3 separate regions of the Homo sapiens genome follow, and regions 1 and 2 are each linked to region 3. The links come from fine-mapping of genetic effects on gene expression. A gene starts in region 3. Each other region holds a variant in brackets. All regions are shown on one strand. Distances are between the middles of the regions.

Region 1 (8,178 bases), 72 kb after region 3:
TCCAGGTGTAATTCAGGAGGCTGAGGCATGAGAATCACTTGAACCTGGGAGGTGGAGGTTGCAGTGAGCAGAGATTGCACCACTGCACTCCAGCCTGGGTGACAGAGCAAGACTCCATCTCAAAAAAAAAAAAAAAGGGAAATGCAAATCAAAACCACAATGAGATGCCATCTCATGCCAGTCAGAATGGCCATTATTAAAGAGTCAACAAATAAGCTGAGTGTGGTGGCTCATGCCTGTAATTCCAGAACTTTGGGAGGCCGAGGCAGGTGGATCACCTGAGGTCAGGATTTTGAGACCAGCCTGACCAACATGGTGAAACTGCGTCTCTACTAAAAATACAAAATTAGCTGGGTGTAGTGGCAGGCGCCTGTAATCCTAGCTACTCGGGAGGCTGAGGCTGGAGAATCGTTTGAACCTGGGAGGCAGATGTTGCAGTGAGCTGAGATTGTGCCATTGCACTCCAGCCTGGGTGACAAGAAGGAAACTCCATCTCAAAAAAAAAAAAGAAAAAAAAAGTAAAAAAATAACAGATGTTGGTGAGGTAGTGGAGAAAAGGGGATGCTATGCATAGTTGATGGGAGTGTAAATTAGTTCAACCATTGTGGAAAGCAGTGTGGTGATTGCTCAAAGAACTAAAAACAGTACTACCATTTGAGCCAGCAATCCCATTACTGAGTATATACTCAAAGGAATATAAATCATTCTACCATAAAGACCCATGCACACAAATGTTCACTGCAGCACTATTTACAATAGCAAAGACCTGGAATCAACCTAAATGCTCATCAATGACAGATTGGATAAATAAAATGTGGTACAGAAATACCATGGAATACTATGCAGCCATAAAAAAGAACAAAATCATGTCTTTTGTGGAAACATGGATGGAGCTGGAGCCCATTATCCTTAGCAAACTAATGCAGGAACAGAAAACCAAATACTGCATGTTCTCACTTATAAGTGGAAGCTAAATGATGAGAACACATGGAAACAAAAGGGGGAACAGACACAGGTCTACTTGAGGATGGGGGATGGGAAGACAGAGAGGATCAGAAATAATAACTATTGGGCATAGGCTTAGTATCTGGGTGATGAAATAATCTGTACAACAAACCCCCATGACACACATTTACCTATGTAACAGACCTGCACATGTACTTCTGAACCTAAAATAAAGTTTTTAAAAAAACAAGTTATGTCCTAATCAAGTAGACTGTTAACCCTGCCAGGTAAGAGAATTAACATGTTATATCCCAGTGAAGTACAATGTTAACCCTTCCAGGTAAAAGAAATTAACGCGTTATATCTGATCAAATAGAATGCAAAGCTGCTAGGTTCACATAAGATTTGTTATGTTCATGAAACCTTAATCGTTTCTTTTTTTCTTTTCATAGAACAGAGAAGAGAAAAAGGACTTTCTTCCCCGAAACATGGATTTGGCATTGTCTCAACATCAGGTACATTAAGATTTCTTTTCTGCGCTGACTTTGCCGGTTGAGTGAAAGACACTCATGCGGGTCCAGAGAGCCTCCGGTGAGATGGGCAGGCCTGATACCAACATCTGAGCAAGACACTGTGCATCTTTTTCTAACACACAAAACTTCAAGCCATGAAGCCAGCCTTGAGTCCCGCTGCACATTTGGACGTTTGCCTGTGAAATATGAAATGCAAGGGCTTTGTGCCTCTTATAACTCCCTCTTGGGGTTACTCTATCTGCTCTGTTTGTATAACGAGCTCATTAAAATGATTACAGTTCCCTGGAACATGAACTTGACTCCACCTACCCCCACTCCTTGCTCCTCAGGGGACTACAGCTCTTGCTCAAAAAACAGGATGCCTTTCTCAACACATTTCCTTTCTGCATTTTTCCCCGTTTAGTTCTCTTTGAAGCAGGAGTGTAGGCAACCCTTTTCTGCTGGATGCAATTGACTTTTTTTCTTGCAATGCTCAGCGTTAGAGCACCAATGACACTAGTAAAAAGTGGCACTGGCGTGCCCCGGCAAACCAGTTTGGCATGAAAACTGACTCTTGGTCCAGCCCGGGCCAGCAGGTGGGCTGACTGCTGGAGCTGTGCCCTTCCTCCAGGCACAAGGTGCTGTGGCAAGTGCTTGGCAGAGCCAGGCACGCAGCTGGGGGCCCCTCAGACTGCTTTGGGGGATGTGTATGTCCTCATCGTGGGAAGGTTTGACTGCTGATCAGAACACATCCAGTTCACTGTGTTTTGTTCTGGGGGCCCAGCTGTAAGACAGGCTATCTGTCCATCATCATTCAAATGTATCTACTTTCTGGATGTCTGGTGAGCTTTTTTTATTGTTAAAAAATTTTTTCAATTAACTTTTATTAGGGCTGGGCATGGTAGCTCATGCCTGTAATCCCAGCACTTTGGGAGGCTGAGGCAGGTGGATCACGAGATCAGGAGATCGAGACCACCCTCTCTAACATGGTGAAACCCTGTCTCTACTAAAAACGCAAAAAATAGCTGGGCATGGTGGCGGGCGCCTGTAGTCCCAGCTACTCGGGAGGCTGAGGTAAGAGAGTGGCATGAACCTGGGAGACGGAGGTTGCAGTGAGCCAAGATGGCGCCACTGCTCTCCAGCCTGGGTGACAGAGCAAGACTCCGTCTCAAAAAAAAAAAAATATTTCATAGAGATGGGGTCTCTGTATGTTGCCCAGGCTGGTCTGAAACTCCTGGCCTCAAGTGATCTTCCTGTCTTGGCCTCTCAACGTGTTAGAATTACAGGTGTGAGCTACTGCTCCTGGCCCGGATGTTTTTGATGTTAAGGATGGTCCCTTGAATAAGGTAGACAGAGTCCCAGCACTCATAACATTTTCATTGTAGCTAGAGTAGACAGGTGCCTAAAGAGCCATCATGGTGCAGTGGGGTTAGTCTTCTGGAAGGCTGGGCATGGAGCTTGGGAGGCAGAGAAAGATGGTGGAATCCTTTGGAAAAGCCAGAGAGGGTCCTCAATGTAGGGCCCAAGCTGAGTCCCACCATATGAATAAGCAAGAAAGGGAAGGGTGTCCAGGAAGGACCAGCATGAGCAAGTGCTGCAAAGTAGGAGAGGCTGGTGGATTTCCACATGGTTGAAATGAGATGGAAGGAGCTGAGGAGGATGCAGGGAGTATGAGACCATGTGGGCTGTGGGGGTGGGGTTAGGGGTGCAGGTGTGGAGAGCCAGGGATTTGGGATTTAGGATTCGGGATGTTCTCTCTCCTCTCTTGTTGGCTGGAGCAAGGATGAATCAGAGGGGACAGATCTGAGACCAGGGAGGAGGTTCCTGCTGGACCCAAAAGAGGACTGGTCAACTCTCTTTTAAACCACACCCGTTTAAAGGCGGGGTGTGGTGGCTTATGCCTGTAATCCCAGCACTTTGAGAGGCTGAGGCAGGAGGATTGCTTGAGCCCAGGAGTTCAAGACCAGCCTGGGCAACATAGCAAGGCCCCATCTCTAAAAAAAATTTTTAAATTAGCCAGGTGTGGTGGCACATGCTTGTGGTCCTAGCTACTTGGGAAGCTGAAGTGGGAGGATCGCTTGAGCCCAGGAGGTTGAGGCTGCAGTGACACGAAATTACACCACTGCACTCCAGCCTGGGCTACAGAGTGAGACCCTGTCTCAAAAAGGGAAAATGATTCAAAAATGAATTGGTTTAAAAAATTATGGTGAAATACTCCACATAAAATTTACGATCTTAACCATTTTTAAGTGTATAGTTCAGTGGTATTAAGGACACTCACGTTATTGTGCCAACATCACCATCACCCATTTCTGTGACTCCTTTCATCTTACAAAACTGACACTCTGTCCCATTAAACACTCACTCCCCTCTCTTCCCTTCCCCCAGCCTTTGGTAACAACCCTTTCTGTCTCTGAGTTTGACTATTCTAGGGACCGCCTGTAAGTGGAATCATGTAGTATTTGTCGTTTTGTGACTGGCTTATTTCAACATGTCCCCAAGGTTCATCTTTGTTGGAGAATCCATGTCAGAATTTCCTTCTCTCTTTTTTTTTTTTTTCTTGAGATGGAGTCTTGCTCTGTCACCAGGCTGGAGTGCAGTGGC[A/G]CAATCTCGGCTCACTGCAACCTCTGCCTCCAGGGTTCAAGTGATTCCTCTGCCTTAACCTTCCAAATAGCTGGGACTATAGGCATGCGCCACCATGCCCAGCTATTTTTGTGTGTTTGTGTGTGAGACAGCATCTTGCTCTGTTGCCCAGGCTGGAGTGCAGTGGTGCGATCTCGGCTCACTGCAAACTCTGCCTCCTGGGTTCACGCCATTCTCCTGCCTCAGCCTCCTGAGTAGCTGGGACCACAGCCGCCCACCACCATGCCCTGCTAATTTTTTGTATTTTTAGTAGAGACGGGGTTTCACCGTGTTACCCAGGATGGTATCGATCTCCTGACCTCGTGATCCGCCCGCCTCGGCCTCCCAAAGTGCTGGGATTGCAGGCATGAGCCACCGTGCCCAGCCAATGCCTAGCTAATTTTTTGTATTTTAGTAGAGATGGGGTTTCACCATGTTGACCAGGATGATCTCGATTTCCTGACCTCGTGATCCACCCCCCTCGGCCTCCCAAAGTGCTGGGATTACAGGCGTGAGCCACTGTACCCAGCCTCCTTCCCTTTTAAGGTTGAATAATATCCTATTGCATGGATTCCCTCATTTTGTTTATCCATTTATTTTCTGTCGATGGACCCTTGAGTTGCTTCCACCTTTTGGCTATTGTGAATAATGCTGTGAACAGGGGTATACAAATATCCCTTTGAGACCCTGCTTCCCATTCTTTTGGGTGTATACCCAGAAGTAGAATTGCTGAATCATGTGGTAATTTTATGTTTAATTTTTTAAGGAACCTCCAGACTAATTTCCACAGCAGCTGCAGCGTTTTACATTTCTACTAACAGTGTACCAGGGTTCCAATCTTACCACATCCTCAGAAACACTTGCTGTTCTCTTTTTCTTTCTTTTCTTTTTTTTTTTTTTTGAGATAGAGTCTCGCTCTGTCACCCAGGCAGGAGTGCAGTGGTGCAATCTCAGCTCACTGCACCCTCCGCCTCCCAGGTTCACACAATTCTCCTGCCTCAGCCTCCCAAATAGCTGGAACTACAGACACGCACCACCACACCTGGCTAATTTTCGTATTTTTAGTAGAGACGGGGTTTCACCCACTACTTCTGGGTGTATACCCAAAAGAATGGGAAGCAGGGTCTCAAAGGGATATTTGTATACCCATGTTCACAGCGTTATTCACAATGGCCAGACTCCTGACCTCAAGTGATCCACCCACCTCGGCCTCCCAAAGTGCTGGGATTATAGGTGTGAGCCACCATGCCCAGCCTTTTTTCTTGCCTTTTCTTTTTTAATATCCTAATTAAGTACATGAAGTGGCATCTCATTGTGGTTTTTATTTGCATTTCCCTAATGATTAGTGATGTTGAGCATCTTTCATGTATTTATCAGTCATTTGTCTATCTTCTTTGGTGAAATGTCTATTCAAGTAATTTGCCCATTTTTGAATCATGTTGCTGTTTTTGTTATTGAGTTTCAGGAGTTCTCTATATATTCTGGATATTATTTCCTTATCAGATATATGACTTGCAAATATTTTCTCCCACTGGGTTGACTTTTTACTCTGTTGATAGTGCCTTTTTTTTTTTTTTTTTTGAGACAAGGTCTCACTCTGTCACCCAGGTGTTCAAGTGATCCCCCAACCTCAGCCTCCCAAGTAGCTGGGTCTACAGGTACACACCACCACTCCTGGCTAAATTTTTTAATTTTTTGTAAAGATAGGGTCTTGCTGTGTTGCTCAGGCTGGTCTCAAACTCCTGGGCTCAAGTGATCCTCCTTCCTTGGCCTCCCAAAGTGCTGGGATTACAGGAGTAAGCTACCATGCCAGCCCTTGAATAGTGTCTTTTGATGCTCAAAATTTTGCAGTTTTCATAAAGTCCAACTTGTCTACTCTTTTTTTTTTTTTTTTGCTTGTACCTTTGTTTTCATATCCATGAAATCATTGTCAAACCCAATGTCATGAAGCTTTTGCCCTGTTTTCTTCTAAGAGTTTTATAGTTTTAGTTTTTACTTTCAAGTCATGGATTCATTTTGAGTTAACTTTTGTATATGGTGTTAGGTAAGGTCCAAATTCATTCTTTTGCATATGGATGTTTGCTTTTTCTAGCAGTATTTGTTAAAAAGATTGTCTTTTCCCTAAAGTATCTTGATGCCCTTGTCAAAAATCATTTATCTGTGTCGTCAAGGTTTATTCCTGGGCTCTCTATTTGATTCCATTGGTCTGTATGTCTGTCTTTATGCCAGTAACACATTGATTTGAATATGGTAGCTTTGTGGTAAGTTTTGAAGTGTGAGCTCTCCAGCTTTATTCTTCTGGTTTCTTTGTTTGGCCACCAGGATCCCTTGAGATCCATGTAAAATCTCAAGGTGGAGTTTTCTATTTCTGCAAAATAAAATAAAATAAAAAGTCATTGGGGTTTATGATAGGGGTTCCATTGAATCTATAGATCACTTTGGGTAGTTTTGACATTTTAACAAGTCTTTCCGATCCATGAACATGGGAAATGTTTTCATTTATTTATGTCTTTTTTTGTCTTTTTTAGTTTCTTTCAATAATATTTTTGTGTGTGTGTGACAGGGATCTCACTCTGTTGCTGAGGCTGGACTGCAGTGGCGGGATCACAGCTCACTGCACCCTCGACCACCTGGGCTCAAGTGAATCCCCCACTTCAGCCTCCTGAGTAGCTGGGCCTACAGGCATGTGTCACTATACCCACCTAATTTTTAAATTTTTTGTAGCAACACGGTCTCATCATCTTGCCTAGGGTGGTCCGGAACTCCTGGGCTCGGGCAGTCTCCCACCTCGGCCTCTCAGAGTGCTGGTATTACAGGCATGAGCCACTGCGCCCAGCCCATGTTTTCTATTAGAGTCAGGGCTGAGGGACAGTTTTTTTCCTGTTGCCGCTTTTGTGATGCCTTCAATGCTTGTTTCTAAGCTCCTAGGGTGCCTCTCTGAGCCATGCAGCCTGGGTCATCCATGCCCACTGGCCCCCCTGAGGCATGGCCCTGGAGAAGGGCCCCCCATCATGGCTGTCTGTCTCTCCGCAGTGACCCATCTGGTGAGGGGACACTCAGTGTGAAGGTCCCGGACTCCATCACCAGCTGGGTGGGTGAGGCCGTGGCCCTGTCCACCTCTCAGGGCTTAGGCATCGCCGAGCCCTCCCTGCTGAAGACCTTCAAGCCCTTCTTCGTGGACTTCATGCTCCCCGCTCTCATCATCCGTGGGGAGCAGGTCAAGATCCCGCTCAGTGTCTACAACTACATGGGCACCTGCGCTGAGGTACTCAGCCCCCCAAATACATAGCCTTCCTCCATTCAGTGGGGAGTTGGGACTGCATTGGTGCTATAAGGTAGGCAGGGGTGGGACAGTGTCAGCTTGGGGGATTTAGGAGGGCGAGAGCCTCTATGATGTTGAGGAGGCAGGGATGGGTGGGCTCAGCCTGGGGGGCTTTGGGGAGGATGCGTCATCTGTGCTGTCAGGGAGGCAGGAGTGGGATGAGATCAGCCTCTGATTCACCAACCGTCAAAGCCGGGTGAGGAGGAGGTGGGGACGCATGTGTGTGAGTGAGAGGGACTTGGTGTAAGTGGAGCTGTTGTCCCTGACTCCCTGGCCTAGCAAGGGCGTGCCTGGACTGGTATCATATATGATAGCATGGAGCTTTCTCTGTAAAGGGCCAGATAGGAAATATTTCTGTCTTTGCCAGCCACACAATCCCTGTGGCAGCGACTCAACTCAGCCCTTATAGCATAAAAGCAACCTAGATGATCTCTTACCTGAATAGATATGGCTGTGTTCCAATAAAACTTGATTTCTAGACACTGAAATCCGAACTCCATAGAATTTTCACCTGTCACAAAATAATCATTCTTCTTTTAATTTTTTTTCCTCCTAACCATTTGAAAAAGATGAAAACCATCTTTAGCTTGTGGGCCCAAAAGACAGGTGGTGGATCCGGTTTGGCCTATGGGTCTTAATTCACAGGCTCCCCACAAAGTACCAGGAAATCCTGGTGGTGAACAGAGAGGGTGCTTGGGATCCCGGTTTATACTCATAGAGCTGCTGATCTTGGGCACGTTATTCAATCTGTTGGTGTGTCGGAGCCTCGCTGGGCGT
Region 2 (8,178 bases), 120 kb after region 3:
CAGCACTTTGGGAGGCTGAGGCGGTGGATCACAAGGTCAGGAGATCGAGACCATCCTGGCTAATCTGGTGAAACCCCGTCTCTACTAAAAATACAAAAAATTAGCCGGGCATGGTGGCAGGCGCCTGTAGTCCCAGCTACTCGGGAGGCTGAGGCAGGAGAATGGCGTGAACCTGGGAGGCAGAGCTTGCCGTGAGCCGAGATGGTGCCACTGCACTCCAGCCCGGGCAAGAGTGCCAGACTCTGTCTCAAAAAATAAAATAAAATAAAAATAAAAATACAAAAATTAGCTTGTGTGGTGGCGCATGCCTGAAGTCCCAGCTACTTGGGAGGCTGAGGCAGGAGAATCGCTTGAACCTGGGAGGCAGAGGTTGCAGTGAGCCAAGCTCGTGCCACTGCACTCCAGCCTGGGCAACCAAGCCAGACTCTGTCTCAAAAAAAAAAAAAGAACAAAAAAAAAAGGAGTCTGCCAGCAAATGCCTCACATGCTCACAGTTCACAATAGGGTTCATGCTCCCACGAGAATCTAATGCTGCTGATGGTCCGATGGGAGGTGGAGCTCAGGTGGTAATACAAGCGATAGGGAGTGGCTGTAAATACAGATGAAGCTTTGCTGGCTCACCTGTCACTCACCTCCTGCTGTGCAGCCCCTTCCTAACAGGCCACCAACCGGTACCAGTCTGTGACCCGGAGGTTGGGGACCCCTGTCTTAGATCGTTCCCCAAAGGAGGCAAAACCTGCTGTCTTCATTTCCTGTGGCTGCCATAACAAATTGCCACAAACTGGGTGGCTTAAAACAACAGAAATACATTCTCATTGCTTTGGAGACCAGAAGTGCAAAATCAAGGCATTGGCAGGCCCTTGCTCCCTCTGCAGGCTCTAAGGGAAGAGCTTTCTTTGCTGCCTCCAGCTTCCAGGGACCCCAGGCATTCTTTGGCTTGTGGCTGCATCACTCTAGCCCCTGCCTTTGTCTGCGTGTGACCTTCTCCTCTGTCTTCTCCCCTTCTCGTCTCTTAAACAACACTTGTTGCCATGTGCAGCAGGGCATTCCTGTAGTCCCAGCTACTCGGGAGGCTGAGGCAGGAGGATTGCTTGACCCAGGAGTTCTGGGCTGTAGTGCACTGCACCAATCAAGTGTCTGCACTAAGTTCAGCATCAATATGGTGACCTCTTGAGAGCAGGATGACCAAGTTGTCCAAAGAGGGATGAACTGGCCCAGGTCAGAAATGGAGCAGGTCAAAACTCCTGTGCTGATCAGTAGGGAGATCGTGCGTATGAATAGCCACTGCACTCCAGCCTGGGCAACATAGTGAGACCTGTCACTAATTTAAAAAAAAAAAAAAAAGGCGGGCCCAGTGGCTCCTGCCTGTAATCCCAGCTCTTTGGGAGGCTGAGGCGGGCAGATCACCTGAGGTTGGGAGTTCGAGACCAGCCTGACCAACATGGAGAATCCCCGTCTCTACTGAAAATACAAAAATTAGCTGGGTGTGATGGCGCATGCCTGTAATCCCAGCTACTCGGGAGGCTGAGGCAGAAGAATCGCTTGAACCTGGGAGGCGGAGATTGCGGTGAGCTGAGATCACGCCATTGCACTCCAGCATGGGCAACAAGAGTGAAACTCCATCTCAAAAAAAAAAAAAGTTAAAGGTTCTTGTCATTGGACGCCAAGCACAGTGGCTCATGCCTATAATCTCAGCACTTTGGGAGGCTGAGGCAGGTGGATCACATGGGTCCAGGAGTCCGAGACCAGCCTGGCCAATATGGCAAAAGCTTATCTCTACTAAAAGTACAAAAATCAGCCAGGCACCATGGCACGTGCCTGTAATCCCAGCTACTCGGGAGGCTGAGGCAGGAGAATCGCTTGAACCTGGAAGGTGGAGGTTGCAGTGAGTTAAGATTGCACCACTGCACTCCAGCCTGGGTGACAGTATGAGATTGTTTTAAAAACAAACAAAAACTCCCGTGCCGATCAGCAGTGGGATTGTGCCTATGAATAGCCACTACACTCCAGCCTGAGTAACACTGAGTAACAGTGAAACCTCTGTCTCTAATACAAATTTTTTTTTTTTGAGACGAAGTTTCGCTCTTATTGCCTAGGCTGGAGTGCAATGGAGCGATCTCAGTTCACTGCAACCTCTGCCTCCCGGGTTCAAGGATTCTCCTGCCTCAGCCTCCCAAGTAGCTGGGATTACAGGCATGGGCCACCATGCCTGGCTATTTTTGTATTTTTAGTAGAGATGGGTTTGTTTGTTTGTTTGTTTTCCCTTTTTGAGATGGAGTCTCGCTCTGTTGCCCAGGCTGGAGTACAGTGGCGCGATCTCGGCTCATTGCAAGCTCCGCCTCCCAGGTTCATGCCATTCTTCCACCTCAGCCTCCTGAGTAGCTGGATCTACAGGCGCTCGCCACCACGCCCAGCTAATTTTTTGTATTTTTAGTAGAGATGGGGTTTCACCATGTTAGCCAGGATGGTCTCGATCTCCTGATCTCATGATCCACCTGCCTCGGCCTCACAAAGTGCTGGGATTACAGGCGTGAGCCACCGTGCCCAGCCAAAAAAAATTTTTTAAAGATATTTGTCATTGGATTTGAGGCCACCTTAATCCAAGGTGATCTCATCTCAAGACTCTTAATTACATCTGCAAAGACCCATTTCCTAAATAAGTCAGCATTTACAGGTCCCAGGGAATATATCTTTTTGGTGGGCCACCGTTCAACCCGCTACACCTGTGCTGGAATCAGATGAGCTGGGGGGCAACCAGCAAATGACCTTGACCCCTTGGAGTTCCGTTGCATCCGCTTGTCTGTAAACGGGAGGATCTGCACAGCTGGGGCCGGGCTGGGTCCATCCCTGCTTGGTGTGGTCTCCGCAGCGTCCTTGAGACCCGTCCTGGCCCGCGTGACCTGGGGTAACTCCCATGTCACTGTTCCTGCCCCTGGGATGGGGATGTCCAACCTTCCCCCACCCCCAGGCAATGGACTTGTGAGGGCCAGTCCTAGGGTCTGGCTAGTCAGCCGGGTTCATCCCTGGCACATGCCTCCCAAAGGGCATCTCAATGTCACACCTTAGGGACAGTTCCCACGTTTGTCCTGGTCTAAGGATGGAAAGCTTTGGAAACATTCTTTCTATGACCAGGACAGTTCCGAAAGCAGAGTTAGCTCAACTCCATACCTCTATTGGGCCACCAGAAGACTCTGGTTCCATTGCTAAATTTGTTAATGCTTCTGGTCACTCATTTCTTCCACATAATATTATTGGGCAGCTTCTCTGAACCAAAACCATCAGTAGATTCTGGACTTGGTCCCTGTCTTCCAACAGATCACATTCTAGGGAGGGCATGAGCAGGGCTGGTGGGCTTCTCTAAGGAGGTGACCAGGCCTGGAGGCTGGGGAGGGCCTGGGCTGTGGAGGTCTTAGGAGCCAGCTTTTTATTTCTATTATTTTTTTTTTTTTTAAGATGAGGTCTCACTCTGTTGCCCAGGCTGGAGTGCGGTGGTGCAATCTCGGCTCACTGCAACCTCTGCCTCTCGGGTTCAAGGGATTCTTGTGCCTGCCTCAGCCTTCTGAATAGCTTGGATTATAGGCGCCCACCACCACGCCTGGCTAATTTTTGTATTTTTAATAGAGATGGAATTTCACCATGTTGGCCAGGCTGGTCTTGAACTCCTGACCTCAAGTGATCTGCCCACCTCGGCCTCCCAAAGTGCTGGGATTACAGGCATGAGCCACTGTACCTGGCCTTAGCTAGCTGTCTTAACAAAGACCTGGCCATGGGGCTGGGTGGGACAGGGTGGCCAGGACTCTGCCTGCTTCCCCTAGAGTATCACTGTGCTCATTTGCCATGCACTTGGGCATCCTGGCCAGACCTCATTTGGAAAAAGGAGTGCCAACTTACAAGAATGGTAATGGGAGCCAGGGGCAGTGGCTCACTCCTGTAATCCCAGCTCTTTGGGAAGCCAAGGTGGGAGGCTCGCTTGAGCCCAAGAATGTGTGACCAGCCTGGGCAACATAGTGAGACTCCATCTCTACAAAAAATAAAATGTTAGCTGGGCGTGCTGGTGTGCACCTGTAGTCCCAGTTACTGGGGAGGTCAAGGCGGGAGGATCGCTTAAGCCCAGGAAGTGAAGGTTTCAGTGAGCTATGATCGTGCCACTGCACTCCAGCCTGGGCAACAGAGTAAGATGCTGTCTGTATTTTTTTTTTTTTTTTTGAGACGGAGCCTCACTCTGTTGCCAGGCTGGAGTGCAGTGGCGCGATATTGGCTCACTGCAACCTCCAACTCCCTGGTTCAAGCAGTTCTCCTACCTCAGCCTCCCAAGTAGCTGGGATTAAAGGCATGTGCCACCATGCCCAGCTAATTTTTGTATTTTTA[G/A]TAGAGATGGGGTTTCACCATGTTGGCCAGGGTGGTCTCAAACTCCTGACCTCAGGTGATCCACCCACCTTGGCCTCCCAAAGTGCTGGGATTACATTGCGCCCAGCCTATTACCAAAAAAAAAAAAAAAAAAAAAAGGCAAGAAAGAAAAGAAAGGAGATGGGGTTTGAAAATTGGGTCTGCAGGCAGTGAGAGCCACAGAAGGATGCAAAGCAAGGGGCTAGGAGTCACCCAGAGCTCTCCTCGGGGATGCCTCAGAAGCCAGTGGGTGGGTGGGATGGGGGCAGAGCAGCCTCCCAGGTTTCACCTTCCCACCCCACCCTGCAGGAGGAGAGAGGCTCCACTGACAAAGCGAGGCACTTCCTGGAGTCTGCTGCGCCCCTGGCCATGGACCCTTATAGCTGTGCCCTGACTACCTACGCGCTGACCCTGCTCCGCAGCCCGGCAGCCCCTGAGGCACTGCGCAAGCTCCGTAGCCTGGCCATCATGCGAGGTAGGTGTCCCTGGCCCTCCCCAGAGGCCACAGCGTCGGGAAGCCCACTGTGGAGTCTGGTAAACAACTCATGAACATATTTATCACAACTGACGAGTCATGTAGTCCCAGCTACTCAGGAGGCTGAGGCAGGAGAATCGCTTGAACCCGGGAGGCGGAGATTGCAGTGAGCAGAGATCGCGCCATTGCACTCCAGCCTGGGTAACAGAGCAAGACTCCGTCTCAAAAACAAAACAAAACAAAACAAAAAACTGATGAGTCGACCAGGCGCGGTGGCTCACGCCTGTAATTCCAGCACTTTGGGCAGATCACTTGAGGCCAGGAGTTCGAGACCAGCCGGGCCAATATGGTGAAACCCCGTCTCTCCTAAAAATACAAAAATTAGCTGGGTGTGGTGGCAGGTGCCTATAACCCCAGCTACTCGGGAGGCTGAGGCACAAGAATCACTTGAACCCAGGAGGCAGAGGTTGCAGTGAGCTGAGATAATGCCATTAGAAAGAAAGAGAAAGAAAAGAAGGAAGGAAGGAAGGAAGGAAGGAAGGAAAGAAAGAAAGAAAGAAAGAAAGAAAGAAAGAAAGAAAGAAAGAAAGAAAGAAAGAAAGAAAGAAAGAAAGGGAAAGAAGGAAGGAAGGAGGGAGAGAAGAGAGAGAGGGAGGGAGGGAGGGAGAGGAAGAAAGGAAGGAAGGAAGGAGAAAGGGAAACTGACGAGATGCCTTTTGCTTGTCAATTGCTTTGTTGATTATAGTATTCATTCATTATCGCATCTGCTAGTGACTTTATTTGAGGAAGTGGCTTGTCCAAGTCACACCAGCCCCAAGCATCACTTTCCTTGCCTGTGAAATCTGGGATGCCAACCCCTCTGGAAGGGGAGTTCTCAGAGAGGGATCCCCAGCAGAGAACGCATCCCCCGCCTCCGGCCAGGCTTCCTGGAAATCATCCCAGGACAGGGGTGCTGGGAGACAGGGGAGGGTTGGGTCTCGCTTCCACCCTTCCCTCCACTTGCTGAGTGAGCCCTGGAAAGCTTTTTTGAGCTGTCAGTCTCCCCACCTACAAAATCATCACCCCACTGGGACTCCAATCCCTGAGCTTTGACTTTCTCAGAATGCCCCCAAACTTAGTCTCCTCCTACTTCACCCAGACCTCCCCACTCCACCCCTACCCCCAGCAGCTGCACTGGGGCTCAGACAGGTTTCTCTGCTTAAGCATTAAGATGCCACCTGAAGAATTGTTTTCATTGCTTCCGAAAGAAAAAAGTTTAAAGAGGATCCAGGGATGGAGTGGGAGGTGGTGGTGGTGGGCTGGTTTCTCTCTGGATTTGAGAGTCTTTACACCTCATGCGAGCTCAGAATCCTTGGAGCCTTTTTCTTTTTTTTTTTTTTTTTCTTTTCTTCCTTTTTTTTTTTTTTTTTTTGAAACGGAGTTTCGCTCTTGTTGCCCAGGCTGGAGTGCAATGGCGTGATCTCCTAACTCAGCCTCCCAAGTAGCCAGGATTACAGGCATGCACCACCATGCCCAGCTAATTTTTTGTATTTTTTAGTAGAGATGAGTTTCTCCATGTTAGTCAGGCTGGTCTCGAACTCCTGACCTCAGGTGATCCGCCTGCCTCAGCCTCCCAAAGTGCTGGGATTACAGGCATGAGCCACCGTGCCTTGCCATTCTTTTTAAATTATTATTATTATTTTTATTTATGTATTTATTTATTTATTGAGACAGTCTCACTCTGTCACCCAGGCTGGAGTGTGGAGTGCAGTGGCTCGGTATTGGCTCACTGCAACCTCTGCCTTCTGGGTTCAAGCAATTCTCCTGCCTCAGCCTCCTGAGTAGCTAGGATTACAGGTGTGCACCACCACACACAGCTAATTTTTGTATTTTTAGTAGAGATGGGATTTCACCATGTTGGCCAGGCTGGTCTTGAACTCCTGACCTCAAATGAGCCACTCACCTCAGCCTCCCAAAGTGCTCGGATTACAGGCGTGAGCCACTGTGCCTGGCCAGAATCTTTGAGCCTTTGCAAGTCGAGTGTGGCTGCTTGGGCACTAAGTAGGAACATCAGGGGCTGGATCAGTACCTGGTCAGGAGGGAGGCTATTGACTAGTGATGTCTGTGTCCAGGAAGGGGAAGGTGGCCTTTGATTAGTGATGTCTGCCAGGGGTAAGGTTGGGTAGCCATTGATTCACGATGTCTGCCAGGGGCACAGGAAGGGCTGGGGCTGCCATAGGTTTGCAGATCTGAGATGGAGCCCCAAGGCCCTTCCTGTTCCAGCTGTCTTCCCCTGATACTCTTCTCCCACTGGGGTCCCACAATACCTTTTCTTTAGACCCCATGCTTGGATGCGCTCCATGGGATGCCAGGCTACACACTGGGTGGGTTATAGCTCTTGACCACTCCTTTCCTTGCAGATGGGGTCACCCACTGGAGCCTGTCAAATTCCTGGGACGTGGACAAGGGCACATTCTTGAGCTTCAGTGACAGGGTCTCTCAGTCAGGTACTGGCCACCCCAGCTCCCGGGTGCCTGCCTTGGCCATACCTCCATGCACTGGGTCCATGTCCCTGTGTCAAAAGTCCCCAGTGGGCCTCTTCCATTGCAGTGGTCTCGGCCGAGGTGGAAATGACAGCCTACGCCCTTCTGACCTACACTCTGCTGGGTGACGTGGCTGCCGCCCTGCCTGTGGTGAAGTGGCTGTCCCAGCAGCGAAATGCACTTGGGGGCTTCTCCTCCACTCAGGCGAGCCGGGCAGGGCCAGAGGGAGGGGCTCAGGGCTGGGTGGGTGGGGTCCCTGCAGTCCTTGTTTTGAGCTCTGAGGTGGCCAGGCAGTCTGGCCCCTTCTCACCTTATGGAGCCCCAAAGAGGGCAGGGGTTGGGGGTGAGGGACAGATGCCCCTGGATCCCCCATGGGAGCCCAGCCTCTGCCTCTGGGGACACACCAACCTGGCTGTCCTGAGGCCCCCAGTGCCATGGGTGTCTGCACTGGGTCCAGTCTCTATTCCAGCCCCGTTGGTGCCTGTTTTAGGCTAGGCTTCCAAGACGGGGTTCAGGGGACCACTGGCCAACTCAGTCTCAGGGTTGATGGCCGTCTCCTCCTCCATCCCCAGGACACCTGCGTGGCTCTGCAGGCCTTGGCTGAATATGCCATCTTGTCCTATGCTGGAGGCATCAACCTCACTGTCTCCCTGGCCTCCACCAACCTGGACTACCAGGAAACCTTCGAGCTGCACAGGACCAACCAGAAGGTTCTGCAGACAGCAGCGGTGCGTGTTCCTGGGATGAGGGTTTGGGGGTTGTTGGAGGAGGGGTCAGCAGGGCCTCACGGTGACT
Region 3 (8,178 bases):
AATGCATTTTGGCTACTCAACCTGTATAATGTGTTTCATTGCAAATCGGTATAATTTAGTTTTTAGTCATGGCTTTGTTAACTCAGGCTTGTATAATTCATGGAATAGTATCAACTGACTCTTCTAAGCAGCGAGCCTTCTCCCGTGTGCTGATGAGGCAGTAATCTGTGTGAGGTGTGCCCACTTTGAGCCAGGGGCTGCGGCCAGCAGCAAACGGGGGGCTCACATCCCAAAGAAGACAGACAGGAAGCAGATGTGTATGGAATAATAAGACCATGCTCTGTGTTTTGTGTACCATGCAGTCAAACTGGATGACCGGGCCATGCTAGTGTCCTCATTGGCTCCTATTCACCCATGATCTAAATCAAGGGTCCCCAACCCCTGGGCCACAGACTGACACTGGTCTGATATTGGATGAGTAAGCAAAGCTTCATCTGTATTTACAGCCTCTCCCCATCGCTCACATTATCGCCCGAGCTCCACCTCCTGTCAGATCAGCGGCAGCATTAGATTCTCAGAGAAGCCCAAACCCTATTACAAACTGTGCATGCGAGGGATCTATGTTGCATGCTCCTTATGAGAATCTAATGCCTGATAATCTGCCACTGTCTCCCATCACCCCCAGGTAGGATCTCTGGCTGCAGGAAAACAACAGCTCAGGGCTTCCACTGATTCTACGCGATGGTGAGTTGTATCATTATTTCATTATATTACAATGTAACAATAATAGAAATAAAGTGCACAATAAATGTCACGCACTTGATCATCCCAAAACCATCACTGTCCCTCCCATCACCTTGCCCCTTGTCCATGGAAAAAATGTCTTCCATGAAACCTGTCCCTTGTGCCAAAAAGGTTGGGGACTGCTGCTCTAAATAGTATGAGATGGGCCCGGCACAGTGGCTCATGCCTGTAATCCCAGGACTTTGGGAGGCTAAGGCAGGTGGATCACATGAGGTCAGGAGTTCGAGAACAGCCTGGGCAACATGGTGAAACCCTGTCTCTACTAAAAATACAAAAATTAGCCAGGCATGGTGGCAGGCGCCTATAGTCCCAGCTACTTGGGAGGCTGAGGCAGGAGAATCGCTTGAACCCGGGAGGCATAGGTTGCAGTGAGCTGAGATCACGCCATTGCACTCCAGCCTGTGTGACAGAGTGAGACTCCGTTAAAAAAAAAAAAAATAGGCCGGGCGCGGTGGCTCACTCCTGTAATCCCAGCACTTTGGGAGGCCCAGGAGGGCGGATCACGAGGTCAGGAGATCAAGACTATCCTGGCTAACATGGTGAAGCCCCGTCTCTACTAAAAATACAAAAAATTATCCGGGCGTGGTGGCGGGTGCCTGTAGTCCCAGCTACTTGGGAGGCTGAGGCAGGAGAAAAGTGTTAACTCGGGATGCGGAGCTTGCAGCGAGCCAAGATCGCACCACTGCACTCCAGCCTGGGCGACAGAGCAAGACTCCGTCTCAAAAAAAAAAAAAAAAGAGTATGAGATGGCCAAACATACAACATGTGACATTGGGTGGGTGAGATCTACAGTTTAGTGCTCACCTATTCTCACACAATGACGGGAGGAGGACCCTGTACACTGTGTGAGGCCACACAGGGGTTGCACTCGGGAGCACAATGAACAAGCAGGGGCTGTGGGAAGCAGGCTTTGTAGTAATAAGAGGGTGAGGCAGCCCCTGGTTCTCCTGGGAGGATGTGATTGGTTTCTTTCTTTCTTTTTTTTTTTTTTTTTTTTTGAGACGGAGTCTCACTCTGTCACCCAGGCTGGAGTGCAGTGGCGCAATCTCGGCTCACTGCAAACTCCACCTCCTGGGTTCAAGTGATTCACCTGCCTCAGCCTCCCGAGTAGCTGGGATTACAGGTGTGCACCACCACACCTGGCTAATTTTTGTATTTTTAGTAGAGATGAGGTTTCACCATGTTGGCCAGGCTGGTCTTGAACTCCTGGCCTCAGGTGATCCACCTGCCTCGGCCTCCCAAAGTACTGGGATTACAGGCATGAGCCACCACGACTGGGCATGGCTTGTTTCAATAACTTCTCAGCAGCTAGGGAAGTGAAGTCTGTGGCTGATGGGTGGGGTGCAGCTGGTCTGGTTGCTTGGTGAGACAGCCAGGTGGAGAGCAGCTTCTCTTGCCAGGCAGGGGGCATATTTGGCAAGAGTAGCTGAACGGTCGGTCAGGACATCGTGGTCCTGTGTGGCTCAACCATGCCAAGGCAGCACTGACATTTTAGACCTTACAAACCAGGCAGGCAGGGAAGGCACCTCCGGGCTAACCCTGAAGGTGGAGGAGAGCAGCCGGTCTTGTGATGCCACGGGGAAGTGCATCCCAGGCAGAGGGGACAGCTGGCACCTTGGCCCAAGATGGTGGTGGTGGGTGGGGGTCTGATGTATCTCAGGAGCAAATGTGGCCAGAGCCCAATGGTCAAGGGGGAGGCGGAGGGCTCAAAGGCTGGCCTGGAGGCTGAGGAGTGGAGGTTGGCTTAGGTAGGAGTCAGAGTTGGCCTGGAGGGGCCCGGAGGGGTGGCATGGGGCAAACTTCGATGATGAGGGTGAGATCAGATGCTGCTTCTTGGTGCTAGATTTTTGCACCTCCATGTGAGTTTAGCAGCCTGTTTGGGGTTGGCCTGGTCTGAGCTTGGAGGCAGGCAGCTCCTCCTCTTCTCCAGGCAGGAGAGACGGCTACTCAATCTACTCCGGCCCCTGCGCGCGTGCACGCACACACACACACCAACACACCATCATCAGTTACGTCCCCTCTGGGTTGTGTGCTCAGTGGCAGCAGGTCCTGTATGTCCCAGGGTCCTCATTGCCCAGCCCAGGGCTTGGTGCTGCCTGGGTGATCAGTGTTGGGTCCAAAGGCTGTTGACAGGGCTGAGAAGCCCCCAGAGGACCCACATCCCTAGGGGCAGGGAGGGGGCAAGAGAAGCTTCCCTTGAGTTTCCTGGAAGGATCAGGAGTTGGACTGGCAAAGGAGGCAGGTAGAGGAAGACAGAGATTAGGCAGAAGCAGGCAGTGGAGTAAGAACAGGGTGTTGGAGGAACTAGGCTGAGGTCTCTGCCATCAAAGCCAGAGTTTAGATTTGGTCTCAATAAACGGGAAGCCCTGGCTGGATGTGGTGGCTCACACCTGTAATCCCAGCACTTTGGGAGGCTGAGGAGGGAGGATCATTTGAGCCCAGTGCTCAAGACCAGCCTGGGCAACACAGTGCGACTCCGTTTCTAAAAAAAAATATATAAAAATTAGCTGGGTGCGGGCTTGCACCTGTAGTCCCAGCTACTCTCCAGGAGTCTGAAGCTGCAGTGAGCTGTGACTGCACCACTAAATTCCTGCCTGGGCAACAGAGCAAAACTCTGGTCTCAAAACATAAAAATAAAATGTAAAATAAACAGGGAGCCCCGAGGATTCCGGGCAGGAGGGGGTGTGGTCAGCACTGGAATTTTAGAAGAAGGGCAGTTGGTAGCTGGGGGAAGGGGGTTCCACACTGGAAGGAGGGGGTCCAGGACTTGGACATGGTATAGGATGTGCCGCCTGCCAGTGGGACCTAGGACAGCAGGACCATCACTGAGGTGGCCACACGGGGAGGGGCAGGAGGGGACACCCTGCTCTTGGAGAGAAAGGGGGTGCCCATCCACCCCTGCTGTATGAAGGGGAAAGGGGGACTCTGAGGCCCAGCGAGAGAGGGGACGGGCCCAAGGGATTTGTGGACAGTGGGGGTGGGGGAGAGGGGAGCAGAGAGCACAGATAGGGACCTGGGGCAGATGTGAGTCTGGGAGGTTCGACCCCTGGCTAGACTGTTTCCCCAAAGGGTCCTCTGCTCCTTGGGCTGTACGCACTGCACTGGGCACTAGATACAGGCCAGGGCTTAGGGCACGGCGGCGCCTGTGGGATCGGGGTTGCAGGCGGCGTCCAGACCCAGGGGCCCCTGGTGAGGGGCGGGCCCGGGGAGGGGGCCATAAGGGGCTGGCTGGGGAGGGAGGGAGGGAGAGGCCAGGGAAGGGACAGGTTCCGAGTGGACGCTGGGTGGAGAGGAGAGGGAGAGTGGGGGCGGTGGGGGGTCGGGTCCGAGGCGGGGCTGGTGGGGAGGGGGGCATCCGGGGGCGAATCCGGGTAGGGGGTGAGGAGGCGGGTTCGGAAGGAATCGGGCAGGGCCCGGGTGGGTCCGGTGAGTAAGTGAGGGGACGATCCCCGGAAGGGATCGGGGCGGGTCGGGGTCCGGAGATGGGCGGAGCAGGCGTCCCGGGAGGGTGCGCCCAGGAGCGGGGCGAGCGGGGCGAGCGGGGCGGTCCCGGAGACGAGGCGGGTCCGGGGAGGGGGCTGGCCCGGGGCTGCCCCAGCTTGGCCGGGCGCGGAGCGGGGCGCATGGCGCCGGGCGCACTGCGCGGGGGCTGCGAACAAAGGGCCCCCGGCGGCGGCGCGAGGACGGCCGCGCTCGGACCCTGGCCCTGGCCCAGCCCTGGCCCGGCCCCCTCCCCAGGCGCGGCGCCCCCCAGGAGCCGAAAAATGAGCGGCGCCCTGCTCTGGCCGTTGCTCCCGCTCCTGCTCCTGCTGCTGTCGGCGCGGGACGGCGTGCGCGCCGCGCAGCCTCAGGCCCCGTGAGTATCCTCCGGCGACAGAGGAGGTCGGTCGCCTTCTGGGGTGGGGGTCGCGGGTACTGGCTCAGAGTGTTGCAGCGACCTGCCCAAGGCCACACAGCCTCCGCGCTGGGCTGGACCTGGCCTCTTGTTCCCGAATCGTCTTGAGGAGGGGGCGCCCTAAAGTTTCCGAAGTGGCTCTGTGGAGGTACAGGGACTCCCAAAAGCTAAAGGTGCTGAGGTCAGCTCCCCCCGCCCCACCTCGCCCCCTTCGTGTGACCCGGGCTGTCATCATGGGTGGCGATTTCCAGTTGTCCAAGGTATGAAGGTAAGAGGAGCGTCTTGGCTGAGAAGTGGGAGGAGAGTGCGAAGGGGCACTTTCCCGTGGGTGGGCGTGGTGAGGGAGGAGGAAGTGTTTGTTTTGCTTCTACATTTTTCTAGAGGTTTGCTTGCAGGCTTCTGGTGGGTTGACAGCGGGGAGAAGGTGAATTAACTAACTGCTGGGGAGTACTGCTAAGTTGGCTTCACAGAGAATATTTCTAAACCTGGCAAGTTCGGGTGAGCTCTGCAGGGCTGCGGGTTCAGGGGGGCTGCCCTGGTCTGCACAAGACCAGCCTTTTAGTCCAGCTGGGCGTTTAGAAGGCGGCTTGTTCAAGCAGCCCTTGTTTAGGAGTTTCCAGAAAACTGGTAAGCAGTGAGACTAGGTGGGTGTCGTTATTTGCAGTGAGTAGTTGGTCCTTGCTGGTCACAGTTTTAAAAGCAAGACAGTCTACTGCGCTCTGAGCATCCAGACTTCCCTCTCCTAGGCTTCGTGAAATCGGAACCCTACAAATTTTCATCCTAATGCTTCTTTCAAAGCTGGCATCCCTTAGAATAGTGGTTCTCAGCCCTGGGGGGGATTTTTGTCTCCCTGAGGCCGCTGGGAAATGTCTGGAGGTATTTTTGGTTGTCACAAATAGGGAGAGGCATTTGGTGTTGGCATTAAGTGGGTGCAGGCCAGGAATGCTGGTAAACAGCTTTCGATGTGCAGGTCAGCTTCCACTGCAAGGAATGACGCGGCCCCACATGACAGACCTTGGCTCCAATGAGAGACCCTGCCTTATACAGAGGTTTTTGTTTGTTGTTTGTTGTTTTTGGGGTTTGTTTTTGTTTTTGTTTTGAGATGGAGTTTTACTCTTGTTGCCCAGGCTGGAGTGCAATGGCACGATCTTGGCTTACTGCAACCTCCGCCTCCCAGGTTCAAATGACTCTCCTGCCTCAGCCTCCTGAGTAGCTGGGATTACAGGCGTGTGCCACCACACCCGGCTAATTTTTTGTATTTTTAATAGAGATGGGGTTTCTCCATGTTAGCCAGGCTGTTCTGGAACTCCTGACCTCAGGTGATCCACCCACCTCCGCCTCCCAAAGTGCTGGGATTAGAGGCGTGAGTCACCGTGCCTGGCCCGTTAGAGAGTTTTAAACAGTTCTCCAGGGCGTTTTCCTCTGACTAAAGTCACCCTGTGATCTTACCATCTGTTAAGTGACATGGAATCCCTGTGCTGAGAGACACACTGGGGAAGAGATGTCCCCAAATGACCGACCTGGGATTCCAGATTAGCTGGCCTCTAAGCCAGGGGCATGGTTCACCCAGCCCAAAGGATCTCGTCTTAGGAATAGCTCTGGATGCCCACTTCTGTCACCTGAGAGATTTTTGTGTGAGGAATCTCTGATCCCAGAAAGCAGCACAGTTTGCAGTTGTAAGAGCAATTCTGTCTACACTGACCCAGACATCCCTTTCCCCAATCTGGGACCTTCTGAGACCAGCAGGATGAGAAGCAGTGTTGGCCCAGATGCTAGGGGTGGGTCAGGTGTGACAGTGAATGGCTGGCAAGCATCCCAACAGCTGGAAACAGCTGCAACTTCTGAATGGCAGGGAAACTTAATTTGGTGATGTCAGTTTCTCTGGGCAGTTGGATGAAGACTTGAACCCGTATTGTCAGGAGTTTCAAAGGTGACCAAGCAAAATGAACACGTATTCCTTACTCTCTCTTCTACACTCACCATGTACTATATGTGAGGCCCGTCTAAACTCTAGGGATCAGCTGGGAGCCAGACAGAAAGAGTATTCCCCTTTTAAAGGATGCCACATTCCAGTGCTGGAGCTGGACAGGACACCTGGACAGGGTAATTGCATGTCCTGGTCAGTGCTGGAGTTATGTAATACACAGCACATACCCAGGGTCTTGCAAACTCCAGTTGGTCCTAGAGTTGGACAGCACATGTGTGATCCCAGGGGACTGAACTCTGGTAATTATTCAAGGCAGATGTAGCACACTATGATCACAGGGTCAGTGCACACTGTGGCCAGGGCTGCAGTAAACAACCCAAACCCATTGTTCGTGTGCATGAAACAACACAAACCCACTGCGTCTTTTGAGATGCAAAATTGGTAATGATGTTTTCATGAAGTTTGGTTTATCAGTGAGTTATTTTATGGATCTTATTTTTGGTATCTTACTCAAGAAATCTTTGCCTAATCTAAGCATGCAATGACTTTCTCCTTTGTTTTCTTCTAGTGTTTCTACAAGTTTTACTTCTTCAATTTAGATCTGTTACTAAGATTAACTTTGAGTTAATCTAATTGCATGGTGTGAGGTAATGTTCTCAATTCATCTTTTTGCATGTGGATGTTGGGTTGTTCTAGAGACACTATTGAGGCCAGGTGCAGTGGGCCTGTAATCCCAGCACTTTGGGAGGCCAAGGTGCGCAGATCACTTGAGGTCAGGAGGTCAAGACCAGCCTGGCCAACATGGTGGAACCCAGTCTCTACCAAAAATACAAAAATTAGCTGGGTGTGGTGGTGCACGCCTGTAGTCCCAGCTACTCTGGAGGCTGAGGCAGAAGAATCCCTTGAACCTGGGAGGTGGAGGGTACAGTGAGCTGAGATCACACCACTGCACTCCAGCCTGGGCAACAGAGCAAGACTCAGTCTCAATTAAAAATAAATAAATAAATAAATAAAAATAAAAAAAGAAAATATTGAAATGAAAATGTCTCCTAATCTCATTGCATGGTCCAGTTTCCCCCTTTACCCTCTTTTCTTCTGATTTCCATCATTCTACATGGTTGCAATTGTGGTGCCTTTGCTATAATGCTCTTGGTGATTGTGGGGACACTGTAAGCATTTCATGAGGTTACAGGGCCTTTGTAATTTTCCATGGAAGGCTGCAGATACTGGGAGACAGGAGCTCAGGTGGGGAGGACCTGGGCCCTCAGGTCAGGTCCCCTAAGGGCACCTCAGTGCCCTCTTCTGCCTGGCTGTGTGATCTGGTGCATGTTCCTATTCTTCTGAAGCATCAACTTCCCATGGGGAAACTGGGGGTAATGCCTCCCTTCCAGAGGTGACTTCATAGTCAATCAGAAGATTTTAGGAAAGAGAGGCCTGCTTTGATTCCATTGTTTTCAGAGCTCTTTTTGTTTGAGGCCCTATGGTTTGTTTTCAGGGTTTGTTCTTAAAATGAATGTTGCAAAGAAGCCCTTTGCTTCTTTTTATCAGGTTTTGGAGTCTGACCGCCTGAGTTAGAATCCTGGTCTGTCACTGTTGCGGCTGGTGACTTGAC

The links. PIP is the estimated chance that this variant, and not a neighbour inherited with it, causes the effect. A credible set is the group of variants that fine-mapping cannot tell apart.
Region 1: its variant is the best candidate, but not a certain one, in a credible set for the expression of CPAMD8 in whole blood (TOPMed, PIP 0.57).
Region 2: its variant is the best candidate, but not a certain one, in a credible set for the expression of CPAMD8 in fibroblasts (GTEx, PIP 0.85).

Annotation. Positions count from the first base shown.
Region 1 is chr19:16,951,135-16,959,312 of GRCh38, reverse strand. It overlaps CPAMD8 (C3 and PZP like alpha-2-macroglobulin domain containing 8), which reads left to right. Exons shown (of 42, transcript NM_015692.5): 19 at 1,398-1,460; 20 at 7,113-7,344. Among named protein-coding and RNA genes, the nearest start is that of F2RL3, 66 kb to the right of the region's middle. RefSeq lists an enhancer at 7,039-7,602. The variant A/G (reference allele first, on the strand shown) is at 4,062.
Region 2 is chr19:16,903,635-16,911,812 of GRCh38, reverse strand. It overlaps CPAMD8 (C3 and PZP like alpha-2-macroglobulin domain containing 8), which reads left to right. Exons shown (of 42, transcript NM_015692.5): 30 at 4,696-4,861; 31 at 7,261-7,347; 32 at 7,451-7,587; 33 at 7,956-8,111. It also overlaps the pseudogene RN7SL835P and the pseudogene RN7SL823P. Among named protein-coding and RNA genes, the nearest start is that of F2RL3, 19 kb to the right of the region's middle. The variant G/A (reference allele first, on the strand shown) is at 4,369.
Region 3 is chr19:17,022,973-17,031,150 of GRCh38, reverse strand. CPAMD8 (C3 and PZP like alpha-2-macroglobulin domain containing 8) reads left to right here and starts at 4,341. Exons shown (of 42, transcript NM_015692.5): 1 at 4,341-4,600. The coding sequence starts at 4,509. RefSeq lists an enhancer at 3,261-4,169.